Linked DNA regions of Homo sapiens: region 1 is linked to region 2. The links come from fine-mapping of genetic effects on gene expression. A gene starts in region 2. The other region holds a variant in brackets. All regions are shown on one strand. Distances are from middle to middle. Region 1 holds the start of LINC03046 (long intergenic non-protein coding RNA 3046). Region 2 holds the start of FBXW4 (F-box and WD repeat domain containing 4).

What was found.
Region 1: its variant is fine-mapped to the expression of FBXW4 in putamen (GTEx, PIP above 0.99).

Annotation. Positions count from the first base shown.
Region 1 is chr10:101,716,957-101,732,928 of GRCh38, forward strand. It overlaps LINC03046 (long intergenic non-protein coding RNA 3046), which reads right to left and starts at 13,186. Exons shown (of 3, transcript NR_186546.1): 1 at 12,761-13,186. RefSeq lists enhancers at 6,290-7,009, 12,850-13,349. The variant C/T (reference allele first, on the strand shown) is at 8,647.
Region 2 is chr10:101,691,606-101,706,162 of GRCh38, forward strand. FBXW4 (F-box and WD repeat domain containing 4) reads right to left here and starts at 3,565. Exons shown (of 9, transcript NM_022039.4): 1 at 2,776-3,565. The coding sequence starts at 3,500. LINC03046 (long intergenic non-protein coding RNA 3046) reads right to left here. Exons shown (of 3, transcript NR_186546.1): 3 at 10,372-10,690. RefSeq lists an enhancer at 2,245-2,324 and silencers at 2,635-3,094, 3,375-3,424, 3,455-3,734.

The sequences.
Region 1 (15,972 bases), 26 kb after region 2:
ACCTTTTGCCTACTGTGAAGTATGCTGCTATGAATATTGGCGTACAAACAGCTGTTTGAGTCCCTGCTTTCAGTTCTTTTGTGTACATACTCGGAAGTGGAATTGCTGAATCATATGGTAATTATATGTTTAATTTTCTGAGAAACCACCATACGGTTTTCCACAGCAGAGGCACCATTTTACATTTCCACCAGCATTATACAAGGGTTTCTATTTCTCCGTATCCATGCCAACACGCTGTTTTCCTGTTTTGTTTTGAGACAGGGTCTCACTCACCCAGGCTGGAGTGCAGTGGCATGATCACGGCTCACTGCAGCCTCAACTTCCTGGGCTCAAACGATCCTCCCACCACAGCCTCCTGTAGCTGGGACTACAGGTGCACACCACCACACCTGGCTAATTTTTTGAATTTTTTGTAGAGATGTGTTTTTGCCATGTTGCCCAAGCTGGTCTCACCGGCCTCAGCCTCCCAAAGTGCTAGGATTACAGATGTGAGTCACAAACCAAGCCCTGTGTTTTTTTGTTTTTTGTTTTTGAGACAAGGTATCGCTCTATTGCCAAGGCTGGAGTGCAGTGGTGCAATATATGTCTCACTGTAGCATCGGCCTCCTGGGCTCAAGTGATCCTCCTGCCTCAGCCTCCCATGTAGCTGGGACCACTGGCACACACCACCACACCTGGCTAATGTTTGTGTTTTTTGTAGAGATGAGGTCTCACTTTGTTGCCCAGGCTAGTCTCAAACTCCTGAGCTCAAGTTCTCCTCCTGCCTTGGCCTTCCAAAGTGCTGGGATTACAGGTGTGAGCCCCCTGCCCACATGTTTTGTTTTTATAATAATGTATGTGAAGTGGTTATATACTTTTAAAAATTAAACAATGAGGCTGGGCACAGTGGCTCACGCCTGTAATCCCAGCACTTGGGGAGGCCAAGGCTGGTGGATCACCTGAGGTCAGGAGTTCGAGACCAGCCTGGCCAATATGGTGAAACTTAGTGTCTACTAAAAATACAAAAATTAGCCAGGTCATGGTGGCGCATGCTTGTAATCCCAGCTACACGGGATGCTGAGGAGGGAGAATCACTCAAACCCGGGAGGCGGAGGTTGCAGTGAGCTGAGATTGTGCCGCTGCACTCCAGCCTGGGTAACAGAGCAAGACCCTGTCTCAAAATAAATAAATAAATAAATAAATAAACAAACAATGGCCTAAACTGTGACTAACGTAATGTTAACATTTTTCTGCATCATTAAGTGTTCTTCAGGGCTGGGCGCGGTGGCTTTAGCCTGTGATCCCAGCACTTTGGGAAGCTGAGGCGGGGGATCACCTGAGGTCAGGAGTTTGAGACCAGCCTGACCAACATGGAGAAACCTCATCTCTACTAAAAATACAAAAATTAGCCGGCCATGGTGGTGCACGCCTGTAATCCCAGCTACTCAAGAGGCTGAGGCAGGAGAATCGCTTGAACCGGGGAGGCAGAGGTTGCAGTGAGCTGAGATGGCGCCATTGCACTCCAACCTGGGCAAAAATAGCGAAATTCTGTCTCAAAACAAAAAAAAAATGTTCTTCAACAATGTCATTTTATTGGCTGTGCAGCATTCCACTGGATAAGATGTACCATAACTTACTCAACCAATTCCCTATTATTAGAAACTTAGGTGTTTCCAAATGTTTGGCATTATAAGAGTGCTGCATATTCACATTTTAGACTTTGCTTTACATTTGCTTATAAATTCCTAACAGTGATATTGCTGCGTCATCGCACATAAACTTTTTTAAAGTTTTGAAATCAATGTCCATTTTAAAATGAAGTTTAAAAGAGGGATGGGAGGACAGAAGGAATTGCTACTGCTGTTACATGCTTAACACCCAAGCAAACATCTATTGAATCAGCTGAGAAATTCCCACACACAATGTAAAGAGTGAGCATTGTCTGTTAGTCCTCCAACAATTTGTCTTTCACCATTGACCTACATTGAAACCTTCAGCTTAGGAAAAGAATGTAGGAGCCTCTTAATGGAAGGCTAGATTCAGTGGTACTTGGGGTGCTAAAATAGTCTGTGTGTGAGTACTTTCATCTCTGCAGTTCACTACTGGATCCAGGACCAATCTAAATCCTTCTTACTTTGTCCACTACTGAAATATGATGCTATCTCTGTGCTGGAAGTTGCAGAAGTATTTAAGAGTACCCAAGAATAACACAATTGAGAAAATAAACTGAAAAATAAGTTCAATAGGAGGAAACATCCCAGAATAAATGACAGGGTAGTAGCTTTCTCCTTTTGGAACTAATATTTTTTTTTTTTTGAGACGGAGTCTCCCTCTGTCACCCGGGCTGGAGTATAGTGGTGCGATCTCGGCTCAATGCAACCTCTGTCTCCCGGGTTCAAGTGATTCTCCCGCCTCAGCCTCCCAAGTAGCTGGGACTACAGGCATGCACTGGGACTACAGGAGTGCGCCACCACACCCCGCTAATTTTTGTATCTTTAGTGAAGACGGGGTTTTGCCATTTTGGCAAGGCTGGTCTCAAACTCCTGACCTCAAATGATCCACCAGCCTCCACCTCTGCCTCCCAGAGTGCTGGGATTTCAGGTGTGAGCCACCATGCCCGGCCCAGAACTAATTATTAATTGGTATAGCTTATGCCCTGACAAAGCCTTAGACCTGGGAATCCTGAACAAACTTCAGTTATGTCCTTCTATTACTCAGAAAGCTTGAGCCACCCAAGGGCTTCCTGGTCAATCCAAACCGTCTTGCCTAGCACTCAGTATTCTGGTTTCCCCTGACCTCTCTGCATCCTGACTGCCCCAGCATGAAGCCTTCCATTCCATCCAAACTGACCTATTTCCTTTTTGCCAAACAAGCAGCATATATTCTGGAAAAATCTTTGGACTTGGAGTTAGACTATGTGGATTTGAACCCTGGGTCTGCCATTGCTTTATTAGGACCCTGGGGAAAATACTGAATCTTGCTGAGCTTCGGTTTCTTCATTTGTAAAATAGGGATAACAAAGCCTAATTTGTTGTACTATTATGTATATGTTAAACTGGACAACAGAATGTAAAAGAAGCTAGCACAATGTCAGATATATACTGAGTGTTTGATAGGTAACACAAAGGTCTTGTTTGGCCTCTGAACTTTGCTCCAAACTGTTCTCTTTCTGGAAAAGTCTTCTTTTATCTGAATCCTGCCCATCCATCAAAGCAGATATGTTTTATCCCTCTTGAAAGCCTTCCCACACCAGTCCTAAGCACTCCCTGGCTATTCCGTTGATTTGGCATTGGTCAGTACTACCTAGTATTGGTTATACTTTTTTACAGTGTATTTTTCTTCTCCAAGTGACCTGTCAAGGAGCCAAACTTTCTACTATCTATTTTTTTTTTTAAAGACGGATTCTCGCACTGTCACGCGGGCTGGAGTGCAATGGCAGATCTTGGCTGACTACAACCTCCAACTCCCGGATTCAAACGATTCCCTGCCTCAGCCTCCCAAGTGCCTGGGATGACAGGCACGCGCCACCATGACCGGCTAATTTTTTGTATTTTTAGTAGAGACGGGGTTTCACTATGTTGGCCAGGCTGGTCTCGAACTCCTGACCTCGTGATCCGCCCGCCTCAGCCTCCCAAAGTGGTAGGATTACAGGCGTGAGCCACCGCTCCCGGCTAACTATCTACTATCTACTATTTCTTCCCCCAACCCCACTTTTCCACCTCCGTATCAAGAATGTTTCCCACATAGGAAATGCTAAGTATTTATGTATTTATTTATTTTTGAGACGGAGTCTCACTCTATTGCTCAGGCTTGAGTGCAGTGGTGTGATCTCAGCTCACTGCAATCTGCCTCCCAGATTCAAGGGATTCTCCTGCCTCAGGCTCCCAAGTAGCTGAGATTACAGAAGCACACCACCACACCTGGCTTGTTTTTGTATTTTTAGTAGAGACAGGGTTTCACCATGTTGGCCAGGCTAGTCTCAGACTCCTGACCTCAAGTGATCTGCCTGCCTCGGCCTCCCAAATTGCTGGGATTACTGGCGTGAGCCACTGTGCGGGCCCTAAGTATTTATGCTGACCCTTTTCACTTTCCCTGTGCTTCATGACCTGCCTGTGTCAGTAGGTCCATAAGGCTTGCATCAGTCCTTCTAAGTGGACTCTCTCCTGAGGCAGTTTTCAGAGAGCCCTGATATCAGTTTGTCCCAACAATAATTAAAATGAATGCACAGCACCTCCTAGCTTACAACAGTAGCCTGTAAAGTTAACAGAAAGGATATTATTATTCTCATCATCCCTATTTCTCGAAGACTAAGAAAGGTCAAGTGATTTGTCCAAGGACACAAGGCTAATGTACAGGAAAACTGGAAACTGAACTCAGATCTACTGCTTGCAAAGTTCATGCTCATGGCCTCACATCATAAAACCTCCTTCTGTATTTAACTGTTCATGAACATTTGTTAGTCTCTAAAGTAGTATTATGGTTGAATTTGAGGTCCTTGCCTAAGAAGAAAATGCCGGTGTTCTTGGGTATAGTAACCACCTAAAGAAACCTCTTCAGTGTTTTTGGAGGCATGAAAGGAACAAAAACAATATGCCAGTTCTTGGGGGAAACGCTCCAGGTGAGAAACTTGTGTAAATTATTTTCTTGGGGCCCAGAATGACACCTGGGCATTTGGTAAGAAGGTACCCTTTCCCCTACACCTTAATTAATTGTGACTCAGAGCAGATCTTTTAGAAATGGTTCCCCTGCTACACTTATTATCTCTTTGGTGACCTTCTGTCCCTACCCCTTAAGGCTCAGGGACTTCTCCTCCAAGCCGTGGCTCTGGCATGCCAGGAGGTGTCCCCCTGTGGTCACCATGAACTAGACTCCCTCCAGCAAAGGGCACAACTCTCACCACAGCTCAAGGGCATCTTGGAGTACAGCTGTACACAATCCAAAAGAATCACAGGTGATTCTGATTAGAAGAGATTCTGAGGGACATCCTATCACTACTCGGTTCTCTAGCACACCCGCATACCTCCCAGCTACACATTTCATCCTGACAGCTCAGCAGACATTCTTCAGACTTAGGGAAGGTGTGAATCCACAGATAGTTCACCTGCAATCCAAGGCAGAACCATGTCTCTCAGCTTCCTTGGTCACTGAGTAAGCAACACCCTTTTTGTACAGAGTATAGCTCTACCCTTTGTCTCATTAAAAACTATTAGAAGCCAGCCTGGCATGGTGGTTCAGGCTGCAATCCCAGCACTTTTTTGGGAGGCCAATGTGGGAGGAATGCATGAGGCCAGGAGTTGAAGGCCAGCCTGGGCAATATGGCGAGACCCTATCTCTAAAAAAAAATTATTTTCTTTTCTTTACTTTGTGTGTGTGTTTCATTTTTTGTTTTTGTTTTTGTTTTGAGGCAGGGTCTCGCTCTGTCACCCAAGCTGAAGTACAGTGGCATGATCACAGCTCTCTGTAATCTCAACCTCCTAGGCTAAAGCAATCCTCCCACCTTAGCTTCCTGAGTAGCTGGGACTACAGGCATGTGCCATCATACCCAGCTAATTTTTTATTTTTTTAGTGATGAGATCTTGCTATGTTGCCCAGGCTAGTCTTGAACCCCTGGGCTCAAGCAATCCTCCTGCCTTGCCCCACCAAAGAAGTGCTGGGATTACAGGCTGAGCCACCATGCCAGGCCAAAAGTGTCTTAAAAACAAACAAACAAACAACTCTTGGAAGCCAAATGAATCCTGACTTAGCTGTTACTGTAGATTCTGTTGATAACAGTTGCTTAAACTCAACTCTGTCCCCACCATCACACACTTGGATGCTAAGATCAAAGTTGCCTAGTTACTTCCAGATTCGTTCAATATGCATTTATTGAACACTACTTCCTAGGTAACTTGCCAGGCACTTGAGTAAAAGGGTGAATCTTCTCATTTTTTTCTCATCCCACAGAAAGTCCTACTTTCTCACAACCAATAAGCCTCATATCAACAGCAAACTCCAAGTTGCACAGAGACTATCACATTTGCAATCTTCTTGTTTTTCTGAAACAAGCATTGGCATAAACAGTAACAGCAATGACTTAGGCCATGCTCTTGCCTATAATCCTAGCACTTTGGGAGGCCAAGGCAGGAGGATTGCTTGAGCTCAGGAGTTTGGGACAAGCCTGGGCAACATAGTGAGACCCCCATCTCTATTTAAAAAAATAAAAATAAAAAACAAAAACCTTATTTATACTCTAATTATTCTGGGCCAAAAATGGGAGTTTGAACTCAATTCATATACTGTTTTTGTAGATTGTTACATGTAACCCTAGGTATCATATTTACCAGGTGTCTATTTCCCCATCTTTTTTTTTGAGACAGGGTTTGTCACCCAGGTTGGAGTGCAGTGGTGCAATCTCAGCTCACTGCAACATCTGCCTCCTGGACTTCAGCAATCCTCTCACCTCAGCCTCCTGAGTAACTGGGACCACAGTTACGCACCACCACACCCAGCTAATTTTGTATTTTTTTGTAGAGGTGAGGTGTCACCATGTTGCCCAGGCTGGTTTCAAACTCCTAGGCTCAAGCCATCTGCCCATTTCAGCCTCCTGAAGTGCTAGGATGACAGGCATGAGCCACCTCGCCCAGCGTGCCCACCTCATTTGGTGAAACACCCTCTCTCTCTCACTGTGCTATTGCTATTAATTTTCCCACACCCTCCATTCTGTCTCAAACACTAAGAGTTCAAACATCTCTTCTCCAGTGATCTTAACCTTGGACTTAGAATTTTCCCCTGTTTCTTAACAGTACCTCTCCTCCCTGGCTGTTCTTTAGCATAACATCAATTCAGTCAAATGAAATAAACAAACATTTACAGAGTGAAGGGGAGGGAAAGATGGGAAGGGGACAGCTGTGATTACTGACCCATCCTGCCCCAGCTTTCCCTCACTAGGAGTAGTTTTGGGTACAAACTCAGAATGGCAGTTAAGAAGAAAAAAGCCTTGTTTTTTATGCTTTCCTAAAGACCAGCAAGGAACAATTGGAATTTGAAATGTAAAAAAAATACCATTTACAATAGCACCAACAAAAATCAAAACAAAACAAAAACCACTTAGGCCCAAATCTAACAAAATAAATACAGGATCTATATGAGAAAAACTACATAACACTGGTGAAGAAAATCAGAGATCTAAATAAATGGAGAGAGAGTCCATGTTACAAGATCAATATACAAAAGCCAGTTTCTGTCATATACTAAATACCAGCAATGAACAATTGGGATTTGAATTTTATTTTATTTATTATTATTATTATTTTGAGACAGGGTCTTGCTCTGTCACCCAGGATGGAGTGCAGTGGCATGATCATAGCTCAATGCAGGCCCCACCTCCTGAGCTCAAACAATCCTCACCTCAGCCTCACAAGTAGCTAGGACTACAGGTGCATGCCACCATGCCTGGCTCATTGGGAAAAATTTTTTTTTTTTTTTATAGAGATGGGGTCTTGTTATGTTGCCCAGGCTGGTCTTGAACACCTGAGCTCAAGGGATTCCTCCTGTTTTGGCCTCCCAAAGTGGAATTAGAGGTGTGAGCCACTGTGCCTGGCTGGGATTTGAAATTTAAAAAAAAAAAGATAACATTTATAAGCCTTATTTCTTGGCGTCATGTGGTTCAAGTGAACACCTTAGCTTGGTGATTTGCAGTTTCAACTTGACTGTGCCCTTTAACCAGAAATCCTGGGGTTGTTGAGACCTTTCCATGTAGTAGCCCAGATCTCATCTTCAATTTTGAGTCAAAATGGATTTTTGAGCGGTCCTAATAGTCACTGGATTCCTCTGAGGTACTATTTGTTGACATTTTTTTTTCTCCAAGCCTCTTTCATTTAGGCAGCCAAATTTTCCTCAGAGACTTCCATTCCTCATTTTCAAACCTTCCTGCCTCTTTTGCTTCCAGCTGGTTCCTGAACTTCGGTCTGACATTTCCAACAGTACCTCCAGCCTACAGCAAGTGTCCTGCCTTTGTGGCCTGTTTCCCGGCCATTGTCTGGCTTCTCTGTTCTTCATTCCCCTTTATCTCTACTCCTTCCCTCCTCCTCCCCAGTGCACAGGTCAGGCATTCAAGGGTGGACGTATCATGGACAACTCTGATTTGAGTTGTTTTCTCTGAAACAAATATTTGCATATGTGACCCTCCCCCACCCCGCCATTTACCATATGGCTTTTCCTCCATCTCAGCCAGAGGAACTCTCAAATTCATATATGTTTTTGGAAATGAAGTTTTCCCCAGATGGTCTCTCCAAAGCACCAAAGCAAGGTCAGAGTTTGTGCATTCCTTCAAAGGTTCTGGGCAGGAGTTAGAATTACTCGTGTTTTCTTACTCCCATCAGCAGTTATTTTGTCAGTGCACCTGATAATGGGACAAAACCTGAGTCTTTCTTAGCTAAAAACACACCAGTGTTTGAGGGAGATGTTGAACCATAAACTGGTGTCCCCAGGGAAAGGAGAGAAACCTGCTCAGTTGCTCAAATAATTTCAAACCAAAGCCCCTGAGGATACTTCCACAGGGAGAGAAAAAGAGTATGAATATTAGAAAGATGATGAGCCAGGTGTGCTGAAAAGTTTTCTTAGTCATTCTTAACCCTAGAAGGGGATGGGGGCAGCCCCACATCTCTACTGGGAAACATACTTCCC[C/T]TTTTAAATCAGGAAAGAAGAAAACAACAACATAGCCCCAAATAGAGAATGTTTTCTTTTGTAACTGGAAGCAAACATTGCTGATGGCTTTAACAGCTGTCTGCCAACGTGGCCTGAGCAGCAGGCAAGCTCAAACATTTTCTGAGATCAACATATGTACAGACGTACAGTATATTAGGTCAAATTATAAATCCAGGAATAAAAGAACAAATAAGTTTCGGCTTTCTCTAGGCTTCTGCATCCAACACCAGCTAAATTAGCCTCTGAAGCAGAGGAATCTGGATTCCAAATAGGCAGGTCTTCCAAAAGTTCAAGTCAAACCTCCCTCTGGTAGGAAAAGAAGGTGCCGTTGTAGATTAACTTGCTGATGACTGACCAGGTCCGGGCTGCTGGGCCCAGCCTAGCCAAGGCTTCCCTGTGTCTTAGCCCAGCAGACTCTGAGGATCTGCGTGCGGCAGGTTAACGTTAAGCCTGCCATTGACTTGATCTTTGACCCCAGTAAATCATTTAATATGCAGTGTGCCTTTGTCCATATGTTAATGTTTTGTGTAATTCGGATGAGAATTCCAGCAAGTCTGGGTGTGCCACCCATTAGGACTAAAGCTTTCCCTTTGGAGCTTCTAGGAGGAACCTTCTGGATAGCTACATTGCAGAAAGCTGAAGTACCTCGATGAACCTAATTGAAATGCCTGCAGATGGTGAGACCAGCCTTGCCTGAACTGTGACTGAGAAGTAAAAGAATGAATTTTTTCCTTTGTTATCAAAACTGACACAAAACTTTTAGTTTTGCCTTAGGGCAAGAAACCCACCAGAATGTAATAGGCAGGAGAATACTGGCTTCCACCACTCTACTAGTTATGGGACCTTGAACAAGTCACATTGGCTAAGCTTCCATAGATGTTAGTGGGTCATGAAATCAATGAAATAGATTGGAACTAAAAAAAAAATTTTTTCGAGATGGAGTCTTGCTCTGTTGCCCAGGCTGGAGTGCAGCGGCTCAATCTCGGCTCACTGCAACCTCCACCTCCTGGGTTCAAGCGATTCTCCTGCCTCAGCCTTCCGGAAGCTGGGATTACAGATTCCTGCCACCAAGCCCGGCTAATTTTTGTATTTTTAGTAGGGACAGGGTTTCACCATGTTGGCCAGGCTGGTCCGAACTCCTGACCTTAGGTGATCTGCCCTCCTCAGCCTCCCAGAGTGCTGGGATTACAGGTGTGAGCCATGGCGCCAGGCTCTAAAAAATGTTTTAATAAAATAAATTGAGTAGAATAGAAAATACCAGGGCTTAGTCCACAGTAAGGGGAAGTACACGTGTGTATGTATGATTCCTGGGGTCATAATGAACAATAAACGTTCTACTATAGGTAACTAACAAAAAGTTTTCAAGCCAGTGGCTTAGCCCAGTGGTCCCCAACCTTTTTGGCACCAGGAACAGGTTTCACGGAAGACAGTTTTTCCTTGGATGGGGTGGAGGAGCCGGTTTTGGGATTAAACTGTTCCACCTCAGATCATTAGTTAGATTCTCATAAGGAGTGGGCAACCTAGATCCGTCACACGCACAGTTCACAATGGGGATCGCATTCCTACGAGAATCTAATGCCGCCACTGATCTGATGGGAGGTACACCTCAGGCAGTTATGCCTGATGTTCACCTCCTGCTGTGCAGCCAGGTTCCTAACAGGCCATGGACTGGTACCAGTCCATGGCCTAGGGGGTTGGGGACCCCTGGCTGAGACCATAGAGCTTCGATCTCCTAGTCTATTTGTTGGAAATAATTCATTTTATATGCATACATAGATATACATACATATACAAATACACACACATCTAATGAGCACCTACTCTGTGTCAGGCACAGTGAGGGGTGTGTGAGGTATACAGGCATGACAAGGCCCTGTCCCCGTGGAGCACTGGCTAGTCAGGGAGCCTATCATAAAATACTGGCATAATGATTTCACTGCCATTGTGATTAGGGCCACAAAGAGACTTACAAAGGGAGAAGAGAGTATGTCGCAGGGTTCCTGACCTGGGCTGCAAGACCAGGGCCAGCCTTCCTGAGGAACGGACATAGAAGGAGGCAGAGAGTGATGCAGGCAAAGAACTGGGGGCATCCCCGGCTGAAGAACCAGCAAGTCTGAGCAGACCCTGAAGAAGGAGTAACCTGTGCTGGGCCTGCCCCAAAGGCTTCTGTGAGGATGACCAAGGGAGGTGACAGCCAGCAGAAACACAGTTTCTGTAAACTGTAGAGTGTTATTCAAATGTGACCTATTATTTAAAACAATGAATATAAACATGCCTTAAAGGTGAGCTTAGCCGGTGGATGGCTCATGCCTGTAATCCCAGCACCTGGGGAGGCCGAAGAGGGTGTATCACCTGAAGTCAGGAGTTCGAGACCAGCCTGGCCAACATGGTGAAACCCCATCTCTACTAAAAGTACAAAAAAAAATTAGCCAGGCGTGGGGGTGGGCGCCTGTAGTTCTGGCTACTCGGGAGGCTGAGGTAGGAGAATCTCTTGAACCTGGGAGGCAGAGGTTGCAGTGAGCCGAGATCGCACCACTGCACTCCAGCCTGAGCGACAGAGTGAGACTGTCTCAAAAAAAAAAAAAAAAAAAAAAAAAAAAGGTGAGTTTAAGCATCCTTTCAATGACTCTTTGCCGGATTCTGTTCTAGGTTCTGGGAATACAGCAGTCAGTAAGACAGACCCTCTGTCCTCCATAAACACAGAGAATGGTGACTTCAGACAGCGGTAAATGCTATGGTGAAATAGAAAATTTGGCAGAGGAATAGAGAATAATGGAGGCAGGGAAGGTTCTAGACAGGAAGGCAGGGCTCTCTAAGGGGGTGAAAACCAGATCTGAACAAACTACCTGTCACCCTCTGACAATGTGACCTTGGATACATCACCTAATCTTTCAAGACTCTCCTTTCACCTCATCTCACAGGACTCACCTGAGAATTAAATGAGATAAGAAATGGAAGCCCTCCTAATACAGGTTAGCGTGAATAATGTTAAACAGTGAATATTTAATAAATGCTAAATAATCGAGTGCTTTAATCAAGAACGAAAGTCAGAAGTTTTTTTTAACAGTCCGGGTGCAGTGGCTCATGCTTGTAATCCCAGCACTTTGGGATATGCATACATAGATTTACATACATATACAAAGGAGGCTGAGGCAGGGGATCACCCGAGGTCGGGAGTTCGAGACCAGCCTGACCAACATGGAGAAACCTCATCTCTACTAAAAATACAAAAATTGGCAGGGCATGGTGGCGCATGCCTGTAATCCCAGCTACTCGGGAGGCTAAGGCAGGAGAATTGCTTGAACTCGGAAGGCAGAGGTCGAGGTGAGCCGAGATGGTGCCACTGCACTCCAGCCTGGGCAATAAGAGTGAAACTCCAACTCAAAAAAAAAAAAAAGAGAGAGAGAGAGAAAGATGTAGAATGACAAGAAGGAGAAATTAGGCCTTCTATTTTCAGACAGGCTGGACAAATCCTGCAGAAGGAGTCATTATTGAACTTTGTGTCAGTTGGGTCCTCTGGGCAGCAGATGCAGAGACAAAATAAGATTTTGGTGGTTGGGGGCAGTAACCCCTGTGAAAGACAAATGAGGAAGGAAGCAGAATTGGATAGGAAAAGCCTCAAACCATGATGTAGCATGTATCAGAATTTCCTTCCTTTTAAAGGCTGAATAATATTCCATTGTATGAATATATCCCATTTTATTTATCTATTCATCCATCGATGGACATGTGGGTCACTCTCACCTTCTGGCTATTGTAGATGATGCTGCTATGGTCATGGGTGTACAAATGGCTGCTTGTTACCCTGCTTCCAATTTGTTTGTGTATATACCCAGAAGTGGAATTGCTAGGTCACATGGTACCCATATGGCTATTTTTTATTTTTTGAGGGATAAATAAATAAAATACTATTTTCCATAGCATCTAATATATACCATGTTAAATTCCCACCAACAGTGCACAAGGGCTCCAATTCCTCCACATGCTCACCAACACTTGTTATTTTCTGGGTGTATTAGTGCCTTCTCACGCTGCTATAAAGAACTGCCCAAGACTGGGTAATTTATTAAGGAAAGAGGTTTAATTGACTTACAGTTCTGCAGGGCTGGGGAGGCCTCAGGAAACTTACAATCATGGTGAAAGGGGAAGCAAATATGTCCTTCTTCACATGGCAGCAGCAAGTAGAAGTCCTGAGCAAAGGGTTAAAGTCCCTTATATTAATAAAACCATCAGCCGGGCGTGGTGGCTCACGCATTTTGTAATCCCAGCACTTTGGGAGGCCGAGGCGGGTGGATCACGAGGTCAGGAGACACAGACCATCCTGGCTAACACAGTGAAACCCTGTCTCTACTAAAAATAAAATAAAATAAAATTAGCCGGGCGTAATGGCGGGCGCCTGTAGTCCCAGCTACTCAGGAGGCTGAGGCAGGAGAATGGCATGAACCCGGAAGACAGAGCTTGCAGTGAGCCGAGATTGCGCCACTGCACTCCAGTCTGGGCGACAGAGCGAGACTCCGTCTCAAAAAAAAAAAAAAAAAAACCATCAGATCTCGCGAGAACTCACTCACTATCACGAGAACAGCATGGGGGTAACCGCCCCCATGATTCAATTACCTCCCGCCGGGTCCCTCCCATGATACATGGAGATTATGAGAACTACAATTCAAGATTAAATTTGGATGGGGACATAGCCAAACCATATCACTGAGTTGTTTGTTTGCTTGTTTGTTTGTTAAATAGTAACCACTCTAGCCAGGCTGGCATGCAGTGGCACAATCATAGCTCACTGGGCTCAAGCAATCCACCCGTCTCAGCTTCCCAAGTAGCTGGTACTATAGGCATGTGCCTCCAGGCCCTGCTAATATATTCTTTGTAGACATGGGGTCTTGGTATGTTGCCCAGGCTGGTCTCAAACTTCTGGTCTCGTCCTTGTGCCTTGGCCTTTCAAGGTATTAAGATTACAGGTGTGAGCCACTGCGCTTGGCCTTGAGCATCTTTTTATGTGCTTACTGGCCACTTGAATATCTTCTTTGGAGAAATGTCTATTCAAGTCCTTTGCCCATTTTTTTTTTTTTTTTTTTTGAGACAGAGTGTCACTCTGTCACCCAGGCTGGAGTGCAATGGCACAATCTTGGCTCTCTGAAATCTCCGCCTCCTGGGTTAAAGTAATTCTTCTGTCTCAGCCTCCCGAGTAGCTGGGACTACAGGCGCGTGCCACCACACCCACTAATTTTTGTATTTTTAGTACAGATGGGGTTTCACCATATTGGCCAGGCTGGTCTCGAACTAATGACCTAGTGATCCACCCACCTCAGCCTCCCAAAGTGCTGGGATTACAGGTGTGAGCCACCATGCCCAGCCCCTTTGCCCTTTTTTTTTTTTTTTTTTTGAGACAGAGTCTCATTCTGTTGCCCAGGCTGGAGTGCAGTGGCGCAATCTCGGCTCACCACAACCTCTGCCTCCCGGGTTCAAGCAATTCTCCTGCCTCAGCCTCCAGAGTAGCTGGGATTACAGGCGCACGCCACCATACCCAGCTAATTTTTGTATTTTTAGTAGAGACGGGGTTTCACCATATTGGCCAGGATGGTCTCAAACTCCTGACCTTGTGATCTGCCCGCCCCAGCCTCCCAAAGTGCTAGGATTACAGGTGTGAGCCACCACGCCTGGCTTTGCTTTGCCCATTTTTAAATTGAATTGTTTGTCTTTTTGTTGTTGAGTTATCACCTCAGGTGATCCGTCCCCCTCAGCCTCCCAAATCACCTCAGGTGATCCACCCGCCTCAGCCTCCCAGAGTGCTGGGATTACAAGTTTGAGCCACTGGGCATGGGCATGTGTCCTCATTTTGTAGATGAATCTCAGAGGGGGCAAGTAACTTGACAGAGCTACTAAGTGGCAGAGCTGAGTTGGATGCCAGGCAGTAAGCTCTACAGCTTGAACTTTTAACCACCCCGCGAACCCCTTTTTCTTCCCCAGATCTTCTCTGGCACTTTTAGCCTTCTAAAAAGTCACATATTGGCCAGGTGTGGTGGCTCATGCCTATAGTCCCAGCACTTTGGAAGGACAAGGCACTTTGGACTTTTGAGCCCAGGAGTTCAAGACCAGCTTGACCAACATAGCAAGGCCCATTCTCTCCCAAAAAAAAAAAAAATTATTAGGGCTTGGTGGCACATGCACCTATAGTCCCAGCTACCCAGGAGGCTGAGGCAGGAGGATCACTTGAGCCTAGGAGTTTAGGCTGCAGTGAGCTATGATCATATCACTGCACTCCAGCCTGGGTGACAGTGTAGGGCCCTGTCTCTAAAAAAATAAGTAAATAAGAAAATAAAAGTCACCTATTAACCTTTTAAAAAGTAAAAAGACAGTTTTCCCTATCATCCCAGGCCTCTAGAAAAATCATTCTCTTCTTTGGTCTTTATTTCAAGAACTTATTTCAACTTGCTAGGATTGCCTATAACACATTGTACTGTGGCTGCTTCCATGTGTGACTATCCATCTCCCTCCTCCCTAGCTCCAACCCTCCTCCCCTAGTAATAATAAACTGTGAGCTATTTGAGAGACTATATCTAAATATCCACATGGTGCAGCACCTAAGAGTGCAGGCTTAAGAGACCAGACTGACGGGGAAGAAGCCTTTTCTGCCACTTACTAGTTACATGACCTTGGGGTCTTTCCTTAATCTTTCTGAGCCTCTGTTTCTTTATCTGTAAAATGGGACTAATGATAGAACCAACACCTCACAAGGTTGTTGCAAGGATTAATGGAGATAACACATGTAAAACACTTAGGATAATGTTTAACACAAACTAAGAACATGATAAAAGTTGGCAAATACTCTATGCTGGAAAAAAATAAAACCAGAATAAACACTCATCCCACCACCAAGTGGAAGAAAAATTGTATGGTGTTTTGTTTTGTTTTGTTTTTTCCTAAGGCAGAGATGAGTAGGCTTCAGCCACTTGGTTTTTCTTCATTTAAAATGCAATATTGGCAGCATCACCTTCAGCCACAGTCGCTTATAGAAGGAAGGGATTGGTCAATAAGGGATGACCCAAGGGGGTACCAGAATCCCCAAATGACTTTCCCCTTCCTAAGGCTGAAGGCTCCGTGCTGCTTCTGCTTGGGCTCAGGCCATGCCAGTCCTCCTCCTCTTCCTTTCTTTTTTTTTTTCCCATCCCTCCCTCCCCACTTCAAACCCTGGGAAAAAAAAATGAAGAGAAGCACACCAACCAAGAAGCCTTTTCACTTCATTGTGTTTTCCAGCTAGACCTGAACAGACGGCGATCAATTCAACCCTCTCTCACCCTC
Region 2 (14,557 bases):
TTCCCAATATCTCTCTTTTAGAGCATTTGAAAATAAACATCAATTCTTTCATTCATTCACTCAATCTCTATATGAAGAGAGAGAAAGCCAAACTTTGCCTTAGCTAGCTTGGGTTACAGTCACTTTAGACTTCTCTTATAGGTTAACTGATAATATTCTTTGAAAGAGTTATTCTCATGAGAAAGGAAGAGAATAAAAAACTATTTCTGCAGGTGACAAGACTGCATGCCCAAGAAGTCCCAAGGAACCATTATCATGAATACAATCATCCTAGAATAAAAAACCATCAAATTCAAAATTTACAAGAGTAGAGTAATCTTCTACATTCAGTAATACCCAGCCAGAAAACATACTGAAGAGAGTGTATTTGCAATAAAAACGAAATGCATAACATTTTCGGAAATACATAGGAGTAAGTGCAACAACAGATATGTAAGAACTTTATCATGAAAACCACAAAAGTCCTTGAAAAAGTACAGAATTTTTTTTTTTGACAGAGAGTTGAACAGAAGTGTAGAAGTGACACACACACATAAATCCAACAGGATAATCTTACCCTGACAGATTACTAGACTCTATCAAAAAGTAACAATATTTAAAATAGTATGGAAATGGAAAACTGTATCAGTGACACACAATGAAGAGTTCAGATATAGATCCAATATACACACATATATGTCTATGTGTATATACATGTGTATATTATATATAATATATATATAAACTTATTATATGGCAAAATAAGCTGTCCAAAACAAAGGAAAAGAGAATTACTTAACAAAGTTGTAGACAACAATAGTAAGTTGAATTCACCTCTTGCACCAAAAGTGATATTGATGAAAGTGTTAACTATTAAAAAATTAAATTAGGCCAGGCGCCATGGCTCATGCCTGTAATCCCAGCACTTTGGGAGGCCGAGGTGGGCAGATAACCTGAGGTCGGCAGTTCGAGACCAACCTGACCAAGATGGAGAAACCCTATCTCTACCAAAAATACAAAATTAGCTGGGTGTGGTGGTGCATGCCTGTAATCCCAGCTACGCAAGAGGCTGAGGCAGGAGAACCGCTTGAACCCAGGAGGTGGTGAGCCGAGTGCACACCACTGCACTCCAGCCCGGGCAACAAGAGTGAAACTCCGTCTCAAAAAAAAAAAAAAAAAAAAAATCAAATTTGTAAGAAAACCAGTGGGAAACAGATTTATCAGGTCTGTGGAGGAATTATAAATTTCTCAGCTTTGGGGAGAAAAAGAGAAAAAAATCACAAAAGACTGGCAGAGCCTAATAAAGTGTAAAACAGTAAAGTAAAATGAATTGACTGGGAAAAATATCTGGATCAAAGATGACAGACTAGATTCTAACATCTAAGACCCACAAAGATTCCAAATTTATAGGAAAAACAAGAAGACCCCAGTAATAAATGGGCAAAGAGTGGGAAGAGACAGTCTCCCAGGTGAAACAAACACATGGGAATATATTTATCCCAGCCAGTGGTAAAAGAGATGCAAAATAACACAACTTTGGTACCTTAAATGACCACTAAAGTGGCAAAGATTTTCTAAATTCTCACATAAAATTTGTTCACTCTGTGCTGGTCCCACTATAATTTGGTACAGCACCTCTGCAAACCATAACCTTTGCTATAATGCCACCTTGAGACTTTATCCTAAGGAACTGATTTTTAAAAAATATGTATGGTAATGACATGTGACTTATATTTCAGTAAAGCTGTTACTCAAAAATGCATTATTTCATTATTATCTATAATAACAAAAAGCTGAACACTACATGTAAGTTTAATAGTAGAGGGATGTTCTTTAATCTCATTATGCGACAGCCCACAAACATTTACTATGTACCTATTCTGTTAGGATCAGTAAGATAGCAATTATATGTGCAACTGAAAAGGTTTTTAAATGAAAATAATTGTCTAGAGGTGATGGTATTATGGCTTTTTATGTTTTTAAAAACGTTATTTAATGTTGTCATAATGTACTAGAAAGAACTACTTTTTAAAAAATGGGTGGAATAGGGGGCAATCTGAAAGCTCTTATTCCCCCAATTCCCTACATGTTTTTTCCTTCCTATTTAACAGTTTAAGTGGTTCAGAAAAGTTTTTCATTCACAGGTCTCAGACCCTACCAAAAACAGGCCAAATTGCAATACCATGTCTTGTACACATCCTGGACAGACTCCAGCCTCCTGCCTCAAGCAGGCCCCCTTTTTCGTGTCGCTCTGCCTATATGAAGTCATAAACTATGGCTGAACACTGGGACCGAGGGCTTCTCTTAAGGTCCGAGCCCTGAAGCTTAACAACCTTTAGAAAAGGGTAGGGAGGATGAAAGATGAAAGTCCACAAAAATTTATGATAGACCACTTAAGGAACCTGAGTCCTAGACCTGGACTCAAGGAATCGTCCAAAGCACCGTACCAGACTGGCTCCTCTGGGGCGAAGGAACCGGGGCAGCTAAACCTCTGCAAAAACACACAATCGAAAGCTGTAGGGAGTGCCTAAGATGGCTAATTGTGAGGAGCGGCCCACCCGGGAGGGTGCCTACTGAGGGATGCTCTCGGGAGGCTGCCTCAGATGGAGGCCTTGGGGAGGAGGGGCAAAGGGGTCCCCGAGAGTGCTCGGGAAAGGGTGTAGGCGGAGGTCAGGTGTAGGCCTAGAAACTCGGGGTGCGACACGACCCTGGGCCGACCAGGCCGCGGCGCCCCGCCCTTTCCCGGGACGCGGGGCCGGCTCGGGGCGGGGAGCGGGCGGGCGAGCGGACGCTTACAGGTCGGTGCCGAGCCGCGTGAAGCCGGAGTTGAGCGAGGCCCGGGCTATCCGGCGCCAGAGCAGATCGCAGCTGGTGAAGCGCCGCAGCCAGCGGCACACCTGGGCCAGGCGGCCGAGGGCCCGCATGTCCAGGTAGGAGCAGATGAGCAGCAGCAGCTCCTCCGGCAGGCGCCAGAGCGCAGGCCCCGCGGCCGGGCGGGCAGCCGACTCCCGAGCCGCCTCCTCCTCCTCCTCCTCCTCCCCGGCCGCCGCCGCCATGGCCACCCCTGTCCCCGCGATGTCGGCCCAAGCCTGACCCCCTCGTCCCTGTGCTCTTCCCGGCCTGGCGCCCTCCCGCCGCCTAGCCCTGACCCTCCATTCCTCCTTCTTCCCATACTCTCTTCCTTGTGCCTCCTTCCCGGCCCCTGCGCTCCCCTCGACTCCCTTGACGATGCCTCTCGCCCCTTCCTCCACGCTTCTGCCTCCCTCTGCTTCCTCCCTTGGGCATGCCCTCGCTCCCGCGTCAGCCCCCGGCCCGGCTGCCTCCTTCGCCGTCTGCGGCCCGGGCTTCCCTTCCGCCCCGCTTCCTCTTCCGCCTTGCCCCGCTCTCGCTTTTCCCTTCCCCTTCCCCTTCCTTCGCTTCCCCCTCGCCACCCTCCCTTCCTGCAGCTTCCTCGCCTCTCCGCCCTCGCCCTCGCCGGGCCCGCCGTTCCCGGGGGGCCCCGAGCGGCCCTGGCTGCCCATGAGCGGCCGCGGGGCCGGCCCGACGCGGAGCCCAGCCCGAGCCGCCACCGCCGCCGCCCCGGGAGGAGGCGACACCATGTCGGACCGGGTCACATGGGGCGGCGCGGGCCGAGCCCTGGGCACGCCCCTCACACCTGCAGCCTTGGAGCCACTTCGGGGTGCGGGCTGGGGCCGGGGCGCTGACACCACCCCCGCATCCCCGAGAGCGCTTGGTGGAAGCACAGGAGTTCGCGCTGCAAACACGTGAGGCCGGTTTCAGGGCCCTGCCTGAGGCCACAAGAGGACCCGCTGCCCTCAGGAAGCGGCCATTTGGAGCACCTGCCCTCAAGAAGCCCCTAGTTGGGTGGCCTTGCCCCTCTAGAAGCCCTCCTCTTCCTCGAGTGATGCCTCCTTTCCACGGGCCACATGTGAGGGCCCAACGAATCTGCAGCCCTAGAAGTTGACAGGTTCCATAGCTTAGGTTCTCACACAGGCCCGGAAGCACGGTCCTGGCGTGAGCTTGGGTGTTAGACGTATTTGGGGATTTGCAGTCTTCTAGATCCTGAGTCCATAACTTCAAAAACAGTCATGTATCAGGAAATGGCACAGCTAGGGCTTCTTATCAGTCACCACCCAAGTGCAAGTGGATTCTCCAAGGACTCAGCATCCATTCTTCATACCACCCATTCGATTCACATGGCATTAATCTGAAGGGAGAGCTACTGAGGTCTAGACCTGTGCTGTCCAACAGTGTCCTCCCTCGTCACATGTGGCTGCTGAGCATTTGAAATGTGGCTAATACAAATTGAAATGAGCTATAAGTGAGAAATGCACACCAGATTTTGAAGCCATACAAAAAAAAGAATGCAAAATATCTCATTAATAATTTTATATTGATTACGTGTTGAAGTGTTAATATTTTGGATACGCTGTATTGGGCTAAATACAATATATTTTAATGTAACTACTAGAAAATTTAAAATTATACATGGGACTTGCATTTGTGGCTCGGGTTATTTTTCTATTAGCATTGGGCTAGGCAGTAAAACTTGGAGGAGGGGAGGAAGATGCCAATTTCTGTCTGTTTATCCTGTACTCCAAATCCAGGTAGGAAGGATTGGAGAGTTTTCTTTTGTACTTATCTACATCTTAACACTCATTTTCAGGGAGCAGGGAAGAATAAAAATTGACCCTGAAAATTATTCAACACCTAGCATAGCCAAAGAGAAACCTAGGGAAGCAACTACATTGTATTATGGTGCTGCAAGAAGCATCATGTAACAAGGTCAGACCGGAATCTGGCTTTGCCCTAGAATTACTTTTTGATCTTAGCAAAACAACAACAAAAAGCCCCACCTATCTTGGCCTTTTAGTGTTCTCAATCTGTAGTGGAGATAATGCCTCTGCCTTACTTTCGAGGGATAAATGAGATGATCCCTGTAAAATGCTTTGAACTCCTCTAAGAAAATTCTTAATAATAGTTACAGGTCAAATCCTGTTACAAAAAAATGCCATCCCTCCCCCTCTCCAAATGCAACAAAGACTTTGTGTAGAAAACGATTTCCAAACTCAAGGCAGTGGTTTATTGAAAGCACTATTTTATAGATTTCAATGCGGCCAAAGAATTTAAGCCATGTTTTAGAGATCATTATAAAGAAATTTACTTATTCACAGGTACCATACTGTTAGAAGACTACTAAGGCAGGAATACTTCACATTTAGGTGATGTCATGAGTTCAATATTTATTGATTTTGCTACATTTGTGTACTATGAGCGAATCAAGAAGGAAGACAAATGATATAGCAGGAATATGGTTCCTGCATTTTGTGTTTAGATTTGTGTTAGAGATGTTTGTAATTTCTTACTGTTTGAGTACTTAACTCATTCAGGATACATAGTAAAGCTGAGTAGTTCATCTATATTCTATCTCATTTTTAGTGGAGGCACTAAAACTTCTTTAACCCAACATAAATCAGGATTAAAATCCATAATCATGCAAGTGTAATTTACTTTATTTTCATTAATGGAGAATTTTTTTTTGAGACAGAGTCTGGCTCTGTCGCCCAGGCTGGAGTGCAGTGGCGCAATCTCGGCTCACTGCAAGCTCCACCACCCGGGTTCACGCCATTCTCCTGCCTCAGCCTCCCGAGTAGCTGGGACTACAGGCGCCCGCCACTATGCCCGGCTAATTGTTTTGTATTTTTAGTAGAGACGGGGTTTCACAGTGTTAGCCAGGATGGCCTCGATCTCCTGACCTCGTGATCCGCCTGTCTCGGCCTCCCAAAGTGCTGGGATTACAGGCATGAGCCACCTTGCCCGGCCTTTTTCTTTTTTTTTTTTTTTTGAGACGAAGTCTCACTCTGTTGCCCAGGCTGGAGTGCAGTGGCGCGATCTCGGCTCACTGCAAGCTCCGCCTTCCGGGTTCACGCCATTCTCCTGCCTCAGCCTCCCGAGTAGCTGGGACTACAGGCACCCGCCACCACGCCCAGCTAATTTTTTGTATTTTTAGTAGAGACGGGGTTTCACCATGTTAGCCAGGATGGTCTCGATCTCCTGACCTCGTGATCCGCCCGCCTCAGCCTCCCAAAGTGCTGGGATTACAGGAGTGAGCCACTGCCCCCGGCCCTCATTAATGGAGAAATTAAAGCATCATTTAGCGGTCATCATTAAAGCGGCCGGGCGCATCATTAAAGCGGCCGGGCGCGGTGGCTCACGCCTGTAATCCTAGCACTTTGGGAGGCCGAGGCGGGCAGATTGCCTGAGCTCAGGAGTTCAAAACCAGCCTGGACAACACTGTGAAAACCCGTCTCTACTAAAAAATACAAAAAAATTAGCCGGGCGTGGCGACAGGCGCCAGCTACTGGGAAGGCTGAGGAAGGAGAATTGCTTGAACTCGGGAGGCGGAGCTTGCAGTGAACCGAGATCGCGCTACTGCACTCCAGCCTGGGTGAGAGAAAAAAAAAAAAAAAACATCAAATCATCCTCTTTCACATTCAAACTAGAGATCAGGTAAACTCTTAGCCTAGAATTTGTAATGTAATGATTTCCAAAAAAGTCAACATACTCACTATGCAGGAAAAAAAGCAAAGCCAAAATGGAAAATTGGCATATAATCTGTTATTTGGTGGTGATGTGTGTCCCTAAATTACCAAACATGTGATAAAGAAAACAACAAAGAAGAAAACCTTTAGCCTTAGCTCAGAGAAGCAGCTAGAATATTTCATCAACTCTCCCTTTCCCTGCCAACAAAGAAAAATCCAATTTGGGATGTAACCAAACTTAAAAATTGTATCATAAAATTTACTTTTAAAATTCTTTTTTGGGATAGAGTGTCAAAAATAAAAAAGCAACTGAAAAGATGTGGCTGAAAAGATGAGTTTGTAATAAAAGTAAATGCATGTCTTCATGAAGGACCTGAATAGCATTTTTCTATCAAAGAAAATAAATATATTAATACTCAGAAAAGAGGAAGGTAGAAAGACTTTGGTGGACTTGACCATCTTTTTTTTTTTGAGGCAGAGTCTCACTCTGTTGCCCAGGCTGTAGTGCAATGGCGAGATCTCGGCTCACTGAAACCTCCGCCTCCTGGGTTCAAGTGATTCTCCTGCCTCAGCTTCCTGTGTAGCTGGGATTACAGGCACCTGCCACCACGACCAGCTAATTTTTGTATTTTTAGTACAGACGAGGTTTCACCATGCTGGCCAGGCTGGTCTTGAACTACCAATCTCAGACCATCCACCCGCCTTGGCCTCTGAAAGTGCTGGGATTACAGGCATGAACCACCCCGCCCGGCCCAGAACATCTTTAAGTAAAAGTCATCAACTCCCTTGAAGTTCAGATTCAGGAATCATCATGAAATAAGGCAGGGAGGTGAAATCTACCTTTGTTTTCATAAAGCTTTTTTATTTAAAAAATTAATTTATAGATTAATAAACTGAAAACAGTGGACACAATATTGGCTGGGTGTGGTGGCTCATGCCTGTAATCCCAGCACTTTGGGAGACCGAGGCAGGCAGATCACCTGAGGTCAGGCTTGTCTGCCTGGCCAACATGGTGAAACCCTGTCTCTACTAAAAGTACAAAATTAGCCAGGCGTGGTGCCGCACACCTGTAGTCCCAGCTACTAAGGAGGCTGAGGCCAGAGAATCATTTAAACCTAGGAGGCGGAGGTTGCAGTGAGCTGAGATTGCACCACTTCACATCAGCCTGAGTGACAGAGCGAGATTCCATCTCAAAAACGAACAAACAAAAAAAAAAACTTAAGACATAATATAAATTTCATAATTTTGTGGGTATTTAGAAACACTAACATTAATTTACCTTTTTTTTTTTTTTAGACAGCGTCTCACTCTGTCACCTAGGCTGGAGTGCAGTAGCATGATCTTGGCTCACTGCAGCCTTGACCTCCTGGGCTCAAGCAATCCTCCCATTTCAGCCCCAGAGCAGCTGGGCCTACAGGTGCCTGGCTAATTTTTTTATTTCATTGACAAGGTCTCACCATGTTACCCAGGCTAATAGTTTACTTTTAAAGAGGATTTTAAAGCAGAGATATAAAGTTCTTTATGTTAGTGTGTACATGTAAGTGACATGCATGATGGTGATTGTTGCTGTTATTGGTAGCACATAGTATATGTTTAGGATTGTAAAAAGGCTAGAATTTTGTATTCTGGTCATTCTTATAAACAGATGACAGAATCACCTATTCACACATTCATTACATTGGTGCCCACATACTCATTGGTTATACCCTCAGGGCCCCTCAGGAGCTGGTAGATTTAACAGGAAAATTATTCTGAGATGAATGAGAGACAAAGAGATTATTTTGTGAGTGACAGATTTCAATATCATACGTGGGCCCAGATGCTCACCATTATTCCTCTATAATAGCATTGGCTTACATTTACTATAAGCACTTACTACATGCCAGCCACTATTAGAAGAGTTTTCCAGCCAGCCACGGTGGCTCACACCTGTAATCCTGGCACTTTGGAAGCCTGAGGTAGGAGGATTGTTTTTGAGCCCAGGAGTTCAAGACCAGCCTCCAGGAGTTCAAGACCAGCCTGGGCAACACTGGAAGATCCTGTCTCTACAAAAGAATTTTAAAAAATTAGCCGGGCTTGGTGACACACATCTGTGGTCCCAGCTACTTCGGAGGCTGAAGTGGGAGGACCAGTTGAGCCTGGGAGGTCAAGGCTGCAGTGAGCCATGATCACACCAAGGCACTCCAGCATGGGCAACAGAGCAAGACCCTGTCTCAAAAAAAAAAAAAAAAAAAAGTTAATTATGTAGACTTTCAAACTCTTAATGCTTTTCATAATCTTTTTTCAAAACTTCAAAGGGATTGTTAGGAACTAAAGTGTCTTGCAAAAGAACATTTAGCTAAAATTTGGTAATTCCTTCATTTTGTTTCAGCTTCATTTTCTTCAATTTCTTCATTTTGCTTCATCCTCATTTAGTAACTATGTATGGTATGTGTGAGCCTTTTGTGTAAATTTATCTCTCTGTGTATATATGCAAAGGGAAGGTTTGTGGAATAATGTTAATAATGGTTTTTTTAGGTGATAGAATTTTGGGATTTTACTTTGTACTTTTCTGTATTAATTTTTTAATAAGAAGCATGTACAAAATAAAGTCTTTAAAAAAATAAGAGTTGTCATGAGTCTATACACCATGCAAAAAGGAATTTGATGATTTGAAACCTAGATCATTGCCAGAGTTTTAACCAGCTACCCAAGTTTCCTCAAACCTTATTTAAATAAGGCTGGGTATGGTGACTCATCCCTGTAATCCCAGCACTTTGGGAGGCTGAGGCAGGAAGATTGCTTGAGCCCAGGAGTTCAAGACCAGCCTGGGCAACACAGCGAGACCCCCGTCTCTAAAAACTGTAAGAATAAATTAGGTAGGTGTGGTGGTGTATACCTGTAGTCCCAGCTACTCGTGAAGCTGAAGCTAGAGGATTACTTGAGCCCAAAAAGTTGAGGCTGCAGTGAGCCATGTTCATGCCACTGCACTCCAAACTGGGCAACAGAATGAGACCTTGTCTCAAAAAACACTAAAACTTTAAAAATTAAAATAAAATGTGTTTCATGTAATAGTAAAATAAACAACAAGTTAAAAGTCTTAGAAAGGAAAAGAAACAAGAAGTCTCACAGTGAATGCTGTATTTGTAAATATTCAAGCTTCTCAAAAATAGAGGAAGAGACTCTAAAATGTTATTTTCAGAAATTATCTATTGGGTTGGTAGTTTATATCTTGAAGTACCACCAAGATCTGCTCTGGTTTTATATGAATCCATCTTCTTTGCCATATTCAAAGATAAAATATTTTTACCACCTATGAAATAATTTCAAGCAAGTGCTATTTAAAAATAGTTATTTTGGCCAGGCGCGATGGCTCATGCCTGTAATCCCAGCACTTTGGGAGGCCGAGGCGGGTGGATCACAAGGTCAAGAGATCAAGACCATCCTGGCCAACATGGTGAAACCCCGTCTCTACTAAAAATACAAAAATTAGCTGGGCATGGTGGTGCACGCCTGTAGTCCCAGCTACTCAGGAGGCTGAGGCAGGAGAATCCCTTGAACCTGGGAGGTGGAGGTTGTAGAGAACCGAGATTGTGCCACGGCACTCCAGCCTGGTGACAGAGTGAAACTCTGTCTCAAAAAAATAAATAAATAGAAATAAAAATAGTTATTTTATGCAGAAGAAAAAAAACTGGAAGGAAATATGACAAAAAGCTAGAAATGGTTGCTTGTGACAGATGGAATTATGGGTAGTTCTATTTGCTGCTGCTTTATACTTTTCTTGCATTTTTAAAGTCTTGTGCAGTGAGTATGTATTACATAGATAATCATTTTTTAAAAGAAAAAAACCTCAGAGGTATTTACACCTAAATGTAAGAAAGAACTTAATTAAGCTAGTTCATTTTAATATTTTTAAGGAAGGGCTGCATATAGTGACTTTCTTTCAAAGAGTACAATATGGAAAAGGGGGATGGGGAGAGCAACTCGACAGTGGAGAAGCCTGACAAGAACTACCTCAGCCAGGTGATCAAGGTCAGCACCACTAGTCATAAGTCATATTGATAGTAGGTCTTGGTACAATCTGATGAAAATGGCAAGTTCATTAAAACTGGGAAAGCTGAGAAACTGTCACAGCCAAGAAGAGCCACAGGAGACATGATGACTAAAGGTAATGTATTCTGGATGGGATCCTGGAACAGAAAAGAAAAAGGACATTAGATAAAAACTAAGGAAATTGGATCGGTTTGTTAATAATAACAATCATAATATTGTAAAATGTGATAATAGGGGTCTATGGAAACGCTCTACTATCTTCACAATATTTCTGTAAATCTAAAACTGTTCTAAAAAAGTTTTTTAAAGTTTCATCTTAGAATGGGCGTGGTGGCTCATACCTGTAATCCCAGCACGTTGTGGGGCTGAGGAGGGCATATCACTTGAGGTCAGGAGTTCAAAACCACCCTGGCCAACATGGTGAAACCCCATCTCTACAAAAAATACAAAAATTAGCCAGGTGTGGTAGTGGGCACCTGTAATCCCAGCTACTCAGGAGGCTGAGGCTGGAGGATTACTGGAGCCCAGGAGTTGGAGGTTACATGAGCTATGATCCCGCCACTATGCTCCAGCCTGGACAACAGCTGTAAGATGTTTTCCAAAGGGTCACATAACATCATTCCAAGACACTGTCCTAATTTTATAACTGAGAAAAACAGACATTTCCCATCACTAATTTTTATATAAATTATATATGTGTATGCATTTAAATATATGGTATGTAAATGTATAGCTATGTCTACAAAAGTTAAGGACCATATGTCTATAATGAACAGTAGAGTAAGTAAGGAGGTGGGCAGGTGGGCAGGATAGAAATATACAATGTAATTTTTCTGGGGGGAAAAAAAACAGATCTCCAGGGGTTTTGCCAGTTAGTAATGCTGTTATTAGTAGGCAATGGCCTTCTTTGTGTCAACAGTGTACATTCCAAGAGATTTTGAATAAAATATAGAGCATACCATCAGCATTCAGATCTAAGATTAAATTCTTGTATTGCCATTGCCATGTGACATCAGATTTTGTGATTTTTCTAAGCCGGGCGTGGTGACTCACACCTGTAATCCAAGCACTTTGGGAGGCCAAGGCAGGCAGATCACTTGAGGTCAGGAGTTTGAGACCAGCCTGGCCAACATGGTGAAACCCCGTCTCTACTAAAAATATAAAAATTATCTGGGCATGGTGATAGGCGCCTGTAATTCCAGCTACTCAGGAGGCTGAGGCAGGAGAATCGCTTGACCCTTGGGAGGTGGAGGTTGCAGTGAGTTGAGATCATGCCACTGCACTCCAGCCTGGGAGACAGACCTTCTCCAAAAAAAAAAAAAAAAAAAAAGGTTTTGTGATTTTTCTGGTCTCTGCCAGTCAGAAGACTGAGTCATTTGGTAACAGATGATAGAAGATAAAAAAAAACTTGAAGATGAAGGGAACCACAAAACCTTGTGAAATTTTCATGATCACTGGGGATTTCTTACCTTGCCTTCAGATTCTAGGTTCTTTTTAAAAGTATAAGTAAATAATCAGTCACCACTAAGATAGAATATGTACAAATATGACCTTATGAGTTCTTTTCCAAGAAAATAATGAGAATTAAGTTCTAGAAAAAATTTGCTCCCAAGCATCTTTAGTTTTTCTGGAAGAAAGTGCCAGGTTAAATACAAAATTCTTATTTCTGATTCTATTGTTATTACTACTATTTAACAATGCCAAAGTTTAAGTAAATTTTTTTCATTTGAGACATTTATTACACTGAATGAAACCACAGGATATCATTTATTTATATTGTCCTAGGTTTCAAGTCCTGTTAAAAATGTGGAAAAAAATGTGAAAAACACACAGGACAACTTTTCTGGAGTATCATTCATACAGTATCTTCAACAGATGGTGGATTGTGTTAAGTTGTTAAATATAAACACAAGTTTTAATGTGAATGGAATAAGAATAGATCTTAATTTTTTTGTTTTTTACTTTAGTAAAAAATGTATACACACATACTCAAAAACAACACACACACACATATGTATATATATATATATAAAATACACACACACCCACCCACCAAGTAAAGAGCAATTATAGTCTTTGGACCAAAATTTAACTGTTATCCTTTGAGAAACTATGTCACTGCTTCTAAAAATATGTACTATAAAATGTGCCTTTTCCCCTTTCTTATAGCAGCTGTTTGAAATACAAATAGATGAATGAGGAAAATCCCCTATGTTTAAAATCCACCATGAAGAGAAAAGCAGGAAGAAGTTCAAGCTAGCCCCTGGGGATTTTCCCAGGTTCAGTAGATTGACCTGGAAACAAGGAGTGCAGCTTGAGCTCTTCTTCCTTTAGCAGAACAAGCACTGGTCAGAGAAATTTCCAAACACATGGAGCTTAGCGAGACCACCTGCTCCTAACACAGGACAATGGCCACTGGACCACCAACTCTGTTGCTTCAAGTCAACACCAGCTCTCCTTCACAACAGATGACAGGCTTTCCGCTAGAAGAGTTTCCCAGTAAAAGAGTGAGCAAAGAAATGCTAAACTTCACATCTGCAATAGAAGCTGATAAATGAGAAGTGAAATGGACAAATTAAAAAGCTGAAACTGAATTCAGTCTTATAGTAGAATCAAACAATAATTACATCGATATCAGCCCTGGCAAGACAGAGCTAAGAGCTCAAATTATCTCTTGGCAAGGGTGTGGGTCTGTAAATGCTATGCAGCAACTAATGAGTAGAGAGGAATTTTTGACCAGGTGCTCATGCATTCCCTACACTGCACCAAGCTCAGCAGATATGTGGCACAACCCAGCACCTTTATAATCTCTCAAGATCTCCATCTCTGGCCGGGCTCGGTGACTCACACCTGTAACCCCAGCACTTTGGGAGGCCAAGGCGGGTGGATCACCTGAGGTCAGGGGTTCAAGACCAGCCTGACCAGCAAGGTGAAACCCCATCTCTACTAAAAATACAAAAATTAGGCCGGGTGCGGTAGCTTATGCCTGTAATCCCAGCACTTTAGGAGGTCGAGGTGGGTGGATCATGAGGTCAGGAGTTCGAGACCAGCCTGGCCAAGATGGTGAAACCCCATCTCTACTAAAAGATACAAAAATTAGCCAGGTGCGGTGGTGAGCGCCTGTAATCCCAGCTACTTGGGAGACTGAGGCAGGAGAATCGCTTGAACCAGGGAGGCGGAGTCTGCAGTGAGCTGAGATCACGCCACTGCACTCTAGCCTGGGCGACAGAGTAAGACTCCATCTCAAAAATAAACAAAAATCAAAAATTAGCTGGGCATGGTGGCAGGCTCCTGTAGTCCCAGCTACTTGGAAGGCTGAGACAGGAGAATTGCTTAAACCCGGAAGGCGGAGGTTGCAGTGAGTCTACATCACACCACTGTACTCCAGCCTGGGCAATGGAACGAGACTAAATCTCAAAAAACAAACAAACAAACAAACAAAAGAAACCTCCATCTCTTGGACCATACAACAATAGGAGAGGAACCACAATGGTCAGACCCAATAGCTTGCTTAACTCCTGTAAAAGAATTGAGGTCAACCAGATGTTGCAATTTTTCTGATTTGAGTCTTTAGTCACGTATGAGATAGCATGTTGGAGTTTAATTAAAGATGTGTAAAGTAATAATATTTAATGATATTTTGCAGGGGTAAGAGAATTAAAGTTAATATCAGCTATTAGAAGAAAGTTATTGATGCTATGTGTGTCTTATGTTAGCCCACATAAGAAATAAATGAACAACAGAATTTTAAGTGTTTAAGCAGTTATGTCATGACCCAATCTAAGTGGGATCTATGAGGAGACTGAGAAGAAGTAATTGAAAGTCTTGGGCTCCACATGGTGGCTCACATCTATAATCCCAGCCCTTTGAGAGGCCAAGGCGGGTGGATCACTTGAGCCCAGGAGTTCAAGACTAGCCCGGGCAACATGGCAAAACCCCATCTCTACTAAAAATACAAAAATTAGGCCGGGCACGGTAGCTCACACCTGTAATCCCAGCATTTT